Regions from separate parts of the Homo sapiens genome. Here regions 1 and 2 are each linked to region 3. The links come from fine-mapping of genetic effects on gene expression. A gene starts in region 3. Each other region holds a variant in brackets. All regions are shown on one strand. Distances are between the middles of the regions. Region 1 has its middle 5.1 kb from the start of FAM106C. Region 2 overlaps LOC105371552 (a long non-coding RNA gene). Region 3 holds the start of CCDC144A (coiled-coil domain containing 144A).

Region 1 (2,757 bases), 100 kb after region 3:
TCCCCTCTGTAAGTCAGAAAGAAATTATTCAAGTAGGAGAATTAAAACAGGATCACAGAGAGGGAAGCTGAAGAATTTGACATTCTGTGTTTACTTGTATGAGGAAAAACAGCACATAGAGGCATCCACAGTAATTAATTTGTTTGGATAACAGTTACAGATAAACAGGTACACCCCATATACAATTACCAATACTTTTTATACAGTTCATATTTCAGTACATCAACACTGTTTTATTTACACTCTATTTATATACATTAACATCTTTTTAAATTGGGATTATTGTCCATATGTTTTATATTTTTTATTCCAGTGATTTCCCTTTTAGGAATTTATCTGAGGGGAGAATACTCTGTAATTACTCCATAATTTGCAGGCAAATATCATCATAGCATTTTTTAGGAGAGTAAAAAGTTATTAACAACTTATATTTGTCTCACATTAGAGGAATGGTTAAATAAAGCATGGTGTATTCATTGGATAAACTATAATGCAGTTGTTGAAAATGATTACCAGGAGTTTTTGCTAACATTTATGGGAACATGCTTATGATATGTGAACATTTTTTTAAAAACAAGACATAAAGTTGCATATACTGGAAATAATACCTTCAATATTGAAAAAAATACTATTTAGGAAAAAGGACAGAAGAAAATCTGCCAAAATTTTGACAGTGGTTGCCTTTGTATTAAGAATATAAAAGGATTCCATGCCTTTTTACATTTTTCTCTGCTTTCCAAAATTTCCACATGAATATTATGCCTAGTAATCAGAAAAAAATACAGGGACACTCACTCTTATCCTTTACATTTCTCTCCTGTTTGGACCTCAGATTCCTCAGTAGAAAATTAAACTAGATGCCAGCCTGGGCAATATGATGTCACCCTGTCTTTACAAAAAATGCACAAATTAGCCAGGTGTGGTGTTGTGCACCTATAGTCCCAGCTGCTTGGGAGGCTGAGGTTGGAGGATTGCTTGAGCCCAAGAGATCAAGGCTGCAGTGAGCTGTGATCTCGCCACTGCACTCCAGCCTGGGTAACAAAGCAAGACCCTGTCTCAAAAAAAAAAAAGAAAAAAAAAGAAAAAAAGAAAATTAAACTAGACAAATTCTTA[A/G]GCCTGTCTCTCTTTTTTTTTTTAATAGTCTTATATGAAGACTATTACTTCATTTCCTGTGTTTTGTGTTAAGATGAGCTTTAAAGCAACTCTGAAAAAGAAGAGGGTGCCTATAAGTAATTCATAGACTGTTTAAACAATAGTAGAGGATCTAAGCATAGATCCCAAGAGGTAAAGGGAATCTTTATCACTTTGGGAACTTTTACTGATAAATAGAAATTACTGTCAGTACAGTCCACAAATATGTTGTTTATCAGCCATCTTTCCTCCCTGTCTTCCTCTAGCACTGTAGCCTGTGTTCCCCAGAAAATATAGTCAATAAAATTCAACATTCTTTACTAGCTTACTCTAATTTGTGGTTGGCCATAAAGTATTCCTGGTAGAGATAATAGAGATAATATTTAACTGGCCATGAGAAAGGAAACACTATCGTATATGATACACCCCTTTTTCTACTCATTCCAACAACGATGATACAGCACGTTTCCTTTTGAAGCACGTGTTTTTTCCTTGAGTGACCAGTTCAAAAGATGATGACAGTTAATATCTTGTTACTACAGAATTTGTACTCAAAAAAGAAGTCTATAACCCAAGTCCAAGCCAGATTTCTTTTTCTAAAAAAAGAATTTTCCTCTAAGTTCCCCTTTTTAAATGAGCTTTTTAGCCTGGATAATTATGCAGTGCTAGAACCTTAACTGCATGATCAAACCCAACCTTGCTTGTTTATAACAGCATTTGACAGCCTCGTGACTCTCACATAGGGAAAAAGTCTCGCCTGAAAACCCATGCTAAGCTGCATGTCTTGAGCTGTGCCAATTTGTATTCCAGGCAGCCTAAGGTTCCCATCGTGAGTTTCAGGAAGGGAAATTCATGGAGGAAGTTCACCTCTGGAAGGGTGAGGAGCAATAAATAGGGTGGGTGATGGACATATGTGACGTTTGCCACAGAGAGGCAGTCAGTATGGGCCTTGTGGTCCGGGCTCTGCTTTGGGACACAAATATAAACTGTGTGAAGTCTTATGGTAGCATTCATAACCCTGATGCTTCACCCACCTTCCCATACATTAGAGGGACAAACAGAAGGATCCCAGCTCTATGGTTCTTGATTGTTTGTCAGGTAGCAGCCAGGCATGGAGAGGGAAAAATTCTTTCTTTTCTGCTGCACTCTAGATCCTTCCTTCTCTCCTCCTTCATTCTACACCACCCCCAACACATATCCCTGCACCCCGCCCATTCTTTGCTCTCTCCTTTCTTACACTTAACTCCTTCTTGCTCCACAGCCTAACATGCTGATTAACAGGACCCCAAAGGTTTGGGTGGGTATTAGGGGCCTTCTCAACAAAAGCAGCACACTCTTGAGCTTGTTCTTCCTTTTGTTGCCATCTCAGATAAAAAGGCCCCATGAGGGAGGAGACAGATAAGTATAGACTTGGTATTCTGATAACTCTGTGTTACATGGGATCAGATGTAAATGAGTTGTACCCTGTGATGTTTCATGCTCTGCTGTGTTGTCTTCTCATGGTGAGCTTTTCTGTGCCCTTATTTCATCCAGCTCTGGTTTCTGTGTTTCATGTTATTTCTCCTAGCCTCTGTAAACTCTGCAGCATACGAATAATGCTCTGGCTTTCTGATTAAAGATAAATGG
Region 2 (2,757 bases), 140 kb after region 3:
GGAGTGGTGCCAGGCTGTGCCAAGGGCAAGGCTGAAGTGGACACGAGGGTCCCTGACTCCTGAAGCCCCAAGGGTCAGGGGACATTTTTAGGAGTCCACTTGGTCCTGCTTTGGAGGTGTGTATATCAAAAGTTCAGCAATCTCCCAGACAACCTCCCAAAGCAAACCCTTCCGGCCCCCACCCCACCCTCCCATCAGCCCCTGGGCTCCACAGACCCCAGCAGGCATGTTGGGAGGAATGTGGTCGTGTCTGGGGCTGCCTGACACGTCCTATCTCCTCAGACAGGCCCCAACAGCCCCTGCTGGAGGCTCCACTGCTCTTCCTGGGATCAACTGTTCCTAGAAGAGAAGCAGGACCTCTCTCACCCCACCCCCAACCTTGACTGTCACCAAAGAAGAAGCCAGAGAGGGGAGCCCCCCACTACTGTGGCCTAGGAGCTTGGAAGACAATACTGAGACAGACACCTGTGCTGTGGGCTCCCCAAATCTGCCAGCAAAGGACTCTCGAGGATGTGAGTAAGCCAGGGCCCCACCCCGCTCCACCCACCCCTGACAGACACTCCTAATCTCCCTGCAGAGAATGGTCCCCCCACCCTGACCCAGTCCTACAATTTCCCCAGAGAGAGGCAACAGGGGTTTTGGCTGAGGGGCAGATGCTTTTGTTGGGAGGCATGTTGCTGTTGGCTGTGGGGCAAGGGAAGGCTGTGCTCACTGGAGAAAAATGCTGTGTCCAGAGGGATCTGGGAGTGGGAATGGGGTGCAGGGCCCGGTACCTGCTTCCTCTGTGCCCCGCCACCCCCACCCACCACCACCACCGTCTCCTTCTTCTGCAGGGATCAGGAATAGAAGCTCCAGAGCCCAGGACATAGGAACAGCTTTACTTTCCCTTTCATTTGATTCAGTGGAACCCAAAAGAAACTCCTTCCTCCCCCTGCTCCGAGGGGAATCCAAAAGATAAGGATGGCAGGGAACCAATGACAGATCAGTCCATGCACATAATCTTAAAAGGCACTTCTGCAGCCCCATCCCAACCCCACGCACCAACTCCAGAGCTCTAGCATGGAATATAAGCCTGATCCCCCACACCCGTTCTCAGAACCGTGGCCTAACCTGGAGCCTGAGGCCAACCTCTCTTCCCCTGCAGTCAAGGACTCAGTGACCAAGGAGCTGCAAACAGCCCGGCCAAGCAGGGAGCAGACTTAGAGGACACCACACTCCCGTCCCCTCCCTGATGCCAAAGAAGCGTGGTACTCAGACATTTTAAGGGAGGGTATTTTCTGGGTCATCAGGGGTTAAAGGGTTGCCAGTCTTGACAGCTGAGGCCCAGAGTACCCCCCACCTCTGGACTTCTAGGCAGGCTTTGTGTGAGCAGCATTACCTGACCCTCCCTCCAGCCTGCCCCAAAAGGAGGGGGGTAAAGGAGGAGCCCCGGGCAGGACCTCCTGTGGTTAGTGAGTCTCCCTGCACCACCCTACATGGGGGAGCCCCGTGCCAATACTAAAATTATTGTAAATGGATAAAATCCATGGGGTCAAAGAGATCAGGAAAGTAGATTATAGCAATCAAATTTTGGAATCTGGAAAACAAAGACAAAGAAAGCCCAGTGCTTGCCCAGAGAGAAGCCAAGAGGCAAAGCATATTTACACTCTGGAACTTTTTAACTCTGAATTTTTAAGAAC[T/C]CTGGAAAGTCTCTGGAATAGGGGGCACCAGGTACCTCTGACAGTGAGGAACAAGTGAACTAGAAATGGGAGGGTGAGCTAGAGATCTATATAAAAAGCAGAGAGGCGGCCGGGCACGGTGGCTCATGCCTGTAATCCCAGCACTTTGGGAGACCAAGGCGGGTGGATCATGAGGTCAGGAGATCGAGACCGTCTTGGCTAACACGGTGAAACCCCGTCTCTGCTAAAAATACAAGAAAATTAGCCAGGCGTGGTGGCGGGCGCCTGTAGTCTCAGCTATTCGGGAGGCTGAGGCAGGAGAATGGTGTGAACCCGGGAGACAGAGCTTGCAGTGAGCCGAGATGGTGCTACTGCACTCCAGCCTGGGCAACAGAGCGAGACACCATCTCGGGAAAAGAAAAAAAAAAGCAGAGGCCGCTATAGCTCCTCTCTCCCTTCCTTGTCTGAACCCAACCACTCCACGATTACTCCAGGAGAAACTAGATGTTTATGCTTGAGAATTTCCCCAAAGGGACTCTGAATCCTGAGACACCAAGCAGGGCCAATAAACTGCAATCAACTAGTAGCAGAGTAGCTGAGACTGAGACCTTCTCTGCCCCCTTCCCGCACTCAGCTTCCAGAAAGCTGGTAGCTTTTACAATCCAGACAGGGAATTAGAGGTATTCCTTCTGAGGAAGACCCTCCCCAAGAAAAGTCCTACAGATAACTGTCCCCCAACGAAACAGCCTATTCTCCACCAGATTACTCTATACTGAGACCTACCAGTGGCAAGCTCCCATGCTATCCACACACATATACACATATTCCAATCAGTTTCTCAGTGACTTACTCTTAAATATGAACAACTACCAAGGACCACCAGACATCTGAGAAAAGCCTCTGGCATGAAAGATGGAGGCAAGACAAACAGCAAGAAAGGAACTGAGGAAACTGAGCTGATGACAGAAATAGAAGCACTGCTGGAGCCAGGACTAATAGGCTCAAAGAGATCAGAGAAACCATTGCATCTTGAAACAAGAACAAGAGACTGTTGAAAAAACATGCAGAGCTATGAGAGATGAAAAATATAAAAGATTAT
Region 3 (2,757 bases):
AACCTCCACCTCCTGGGTTCAAGCGATTCTTTTGTCTCAGCCTCCCGAGTAGCTGGGACTACAGGCACGTGCCAGCACGCCCAACTAATTTTTGTATTTTTAGTAGAGAACAAGGGGTCACCATGTTAGCCAGGATGGTCTTGATCTCTTGACCTCATGATCTACCTGCCTCTGCCTCCCAAAGTGTTGGGATTACAGGTGGGAGCCACTGCGCCCGGCCACAGATATTTTGTAAATGATTGCTTCCTTACGCCTTTCTAGTTCATGTTTTCTTATACATAGTTACATTTCTTCTTTGCTATACTAAAAATCCCTAATTTTAGTTGGTCAGAGAGAGGGATTTGAGACTGAGCTCCCATCTCCTCGGCTGCAGCATCTGATTAAAGCCTTCTTCCTTTGCAATACTCATCTCAGTGATTGGCTTTCTGTGGGTGAGCAGCGCAGGATCTAGGCTGAAGCCCTGAGGCTTCAGTGACAAAATCTGTTTTTCATAATGCTATCTGTCTTAATTGTCCTCAAGAATTAGTATTTGAGTGCTCTCTAGATTCTCCTTTGTCACCCTTCCTTCCTTTCTTTCTTCCTTTCTTCCTTCCTTCTTTCCTTCTCTTTGCTTCGTTCTCTCCTTCCTTCTTTTCTTTCTTTTTTTGAGACGGAGTCTTGCTCTGTCGCCCAGGCTGGAGTTTGGTGGCACGATATCAGCTCACTGCAACGTTCACCTCCCGGGTTCAAGAGATTCTCCTGTCTCAGCCTCTGGAGTAGCTGGGACTACAGGCACGCGCCACCACGCCCAACTAATTTTTGTATTTTTAGTAGAGAGGGTTTCACCATGTTGGCCAGGCTGGCCTCAAACTCCTGACCTCAAGTGATCTGCCCGCCTCAACCTCCCAAAGTGCTGGGATTACAGGTGTGAGCCACCGCGCCTGGCCGTCACTTTTCTTCAATCTCACTGGTGCTCGCGGGCTGAAGGGTCAGGACGGACTAGAGGCGAGCAATCCTGGTGGCACCAGGCGTTCCCCGACCCGCCCGGGTCGCCAGCTGCACGGACCCTGGGCAGATGCGCGCAGCGGCTGCGGCACACGGCGGGGAGCGGCTGCTTGGCCCCATCCTAAGGCAGCAGAATGCCCAGAGCTGGTCCCTGGCTCCAGGCGCAGGCCGAGTAGGAGCTGGGCGGGCAGCGGCGTCGGGCAGGCCCTTCCAGCCGGGCTGACAGGCCGCTCTGACCCAGCCATCTGACTCCGCTTGCGTCCTGGCAGCGCGGACCCTAGGGCAACTTTGCTGCAGTGGCCAAGCCGGGGGCGGAACTGACCCGTACCCCTGAACCGAGCAAGCCTAGGAGCAGGTGCGCCGGCGGCGCTGTGAAGCGGCACTCATGACAGGCAGGCTGGGCACCGCCACCCCGAAACCTCCGAGGGAGGACCAGCCAGCCCAGGTTGGCGCTGGAGCTGCAGCGCCACCTGCAGGCCAAGGAGTCTTTTTCTGGGAGGCTGGAGCTGCAGCGCCACCTGCAGGCCAAGGAGTCTTTTTCTGGGAGGCTGGAGCTGCAGCGCCACCTGCAGGCCAAGGAGTCTTTTTCTGGGAGGCTGGAGCTGCAGATGCAGTGAAGTCACAGGTTCCGTGATGTCACAGGTGGGCAGGCGCACTGGTCTGTAACGGATTGGCTTGGCCTTACCCACGAGGCTTTGCGGTGGCTGTTGGCTTGGCGGTGGTCGCTTGGCTTGGCGTGGCAGTGATCGCTTGGCTTGGCATTTCTGGCTTGGCGGTCCTCCTTTCGCAGATTGGAAACCGCGGGCTATCCTGCTGGGAGGTTGTGGCCGAGGCAGTAGCTCGCTACTGATGGCCTCCTGGGGTGGAGAAAAGCGGGGAGGGGCTGAGGGGTCTCCGAAGCCGGCAGTCTACGCCACGAGGAAGACCCCTAGCGTCGGGAGCCAGGGGGACCAGTGGTACTTGGGCTACCCGGGGGACCAGTGGTCCTCGGGCTTCCCCTACAGCTGGTGGAAAAACAGCGTCGGCAGCGAGAGCAAGCACGGTGAGGGCGCCTTAGACCAGCCCCAGCACGACGTCCGCCTGGAAGATCTTGGCGAGCTCCACAGAGCTGCCCGGTCGGGCGACGTCCCTGGGGTGGAGCACATCTTAGCTCCTGGAGACACTGGCGTGGACAAGAGGGATAGGAAGAAGAGGTAATGGCCAGGCGAAGGATGCGCCGTCCTGTCGGGGACACTGGCTTTCTGGTGCCCGCAGGCCCCACGGCACCCGGGATGGGGAAACGTCAGAGGGGTCAGGGGCCCAGGCCTCTTAGTGAGACGGGATCAAATATAAAGGATTATTACTATTGCAAAAGTGTTGGTCTACTTTACAGGAGTTTTCTTTAAAAATATTGCACTTCCCAACTGTGTTTATCCATTTTCTCAATTTATTCATCAAACATAAGCTGAATACCTATTATACAGCAGACATATTCTACTGTCGCTCAGGTTCCTTCCATCCTTAAGAACTTCATGTTGGCCGAGCTCGGTGGCTCATGCCTGTAATCCCAGCACTTTGGGAGGCCGAGGAGGGCAGATCACGAGGTCAGAAGTTCGAGACCAGGCTGACCAACATGGTGAAACCCCGCCTGTTATGCTTTTGTCTCAGCCTAGACTTAGCTAAGACCTTCATGATAAATTATCCTTTAGGCCCTCGGGGTTCAGTTCAAATAATGTTGCAGAAAGAGAGGAGTTTCCTTTTTTCATTGCTACCAGATCTGTATGCTGAGGACCC

What was found. PIP is the estimated chance that this variant, and not a neighbour inherited with it, causes the effect.
Region 1: its variant is the best candidate, but not a certain one, in a credible set for the expression of CCDC144A in tibial artery (GTEx, PIP 0.64).
Region 2: its variant is the best candidate, but not a certain one, in a credible set for the expression of CCDC144A in subcutaneous fat (GTEx, PIP 0.87).

The regions. Positions count from the first base shown.
Region 1 is chr17:16,792,632-16,795,388 of GRCh38, forward strand. It overlaps the pseudogene USP32P1. Among named protein-coding and RNA genes, the nearest start is that of FAM106C, 5.1 kb to the left of the region's middle. The variant A/G (reference allele first, on the strand shown) is at 1,114.
Region 2 is chr17:16,823,690-16,826,446 of GRCh38, forward strand. LOC105371552 (a long non-coding RNA gene) reads left to right here. Exons shown (of 3, transcript XR_934251.1): 2 at 283-512. Among named protein-coding and RNA genes, the nearest start is that of FAM106C, 36 kb to the left of the region's middle. The variant T/C (reference allele first, on the strand shown) is at 1,680.
Region 3 is chr17:16,688,568-16,691,324 of GRCh38, forward strand. It overlaps CCDC144A (coiled-coil domain containing 144A), which reads left to right and starts at 1,674. Exons shown (of 17, transcript NM_001382000.1): 1 at 1,674-2,177. The coding sequence starts at 1,834. RefSeq lists an enhancer at 664-1,567.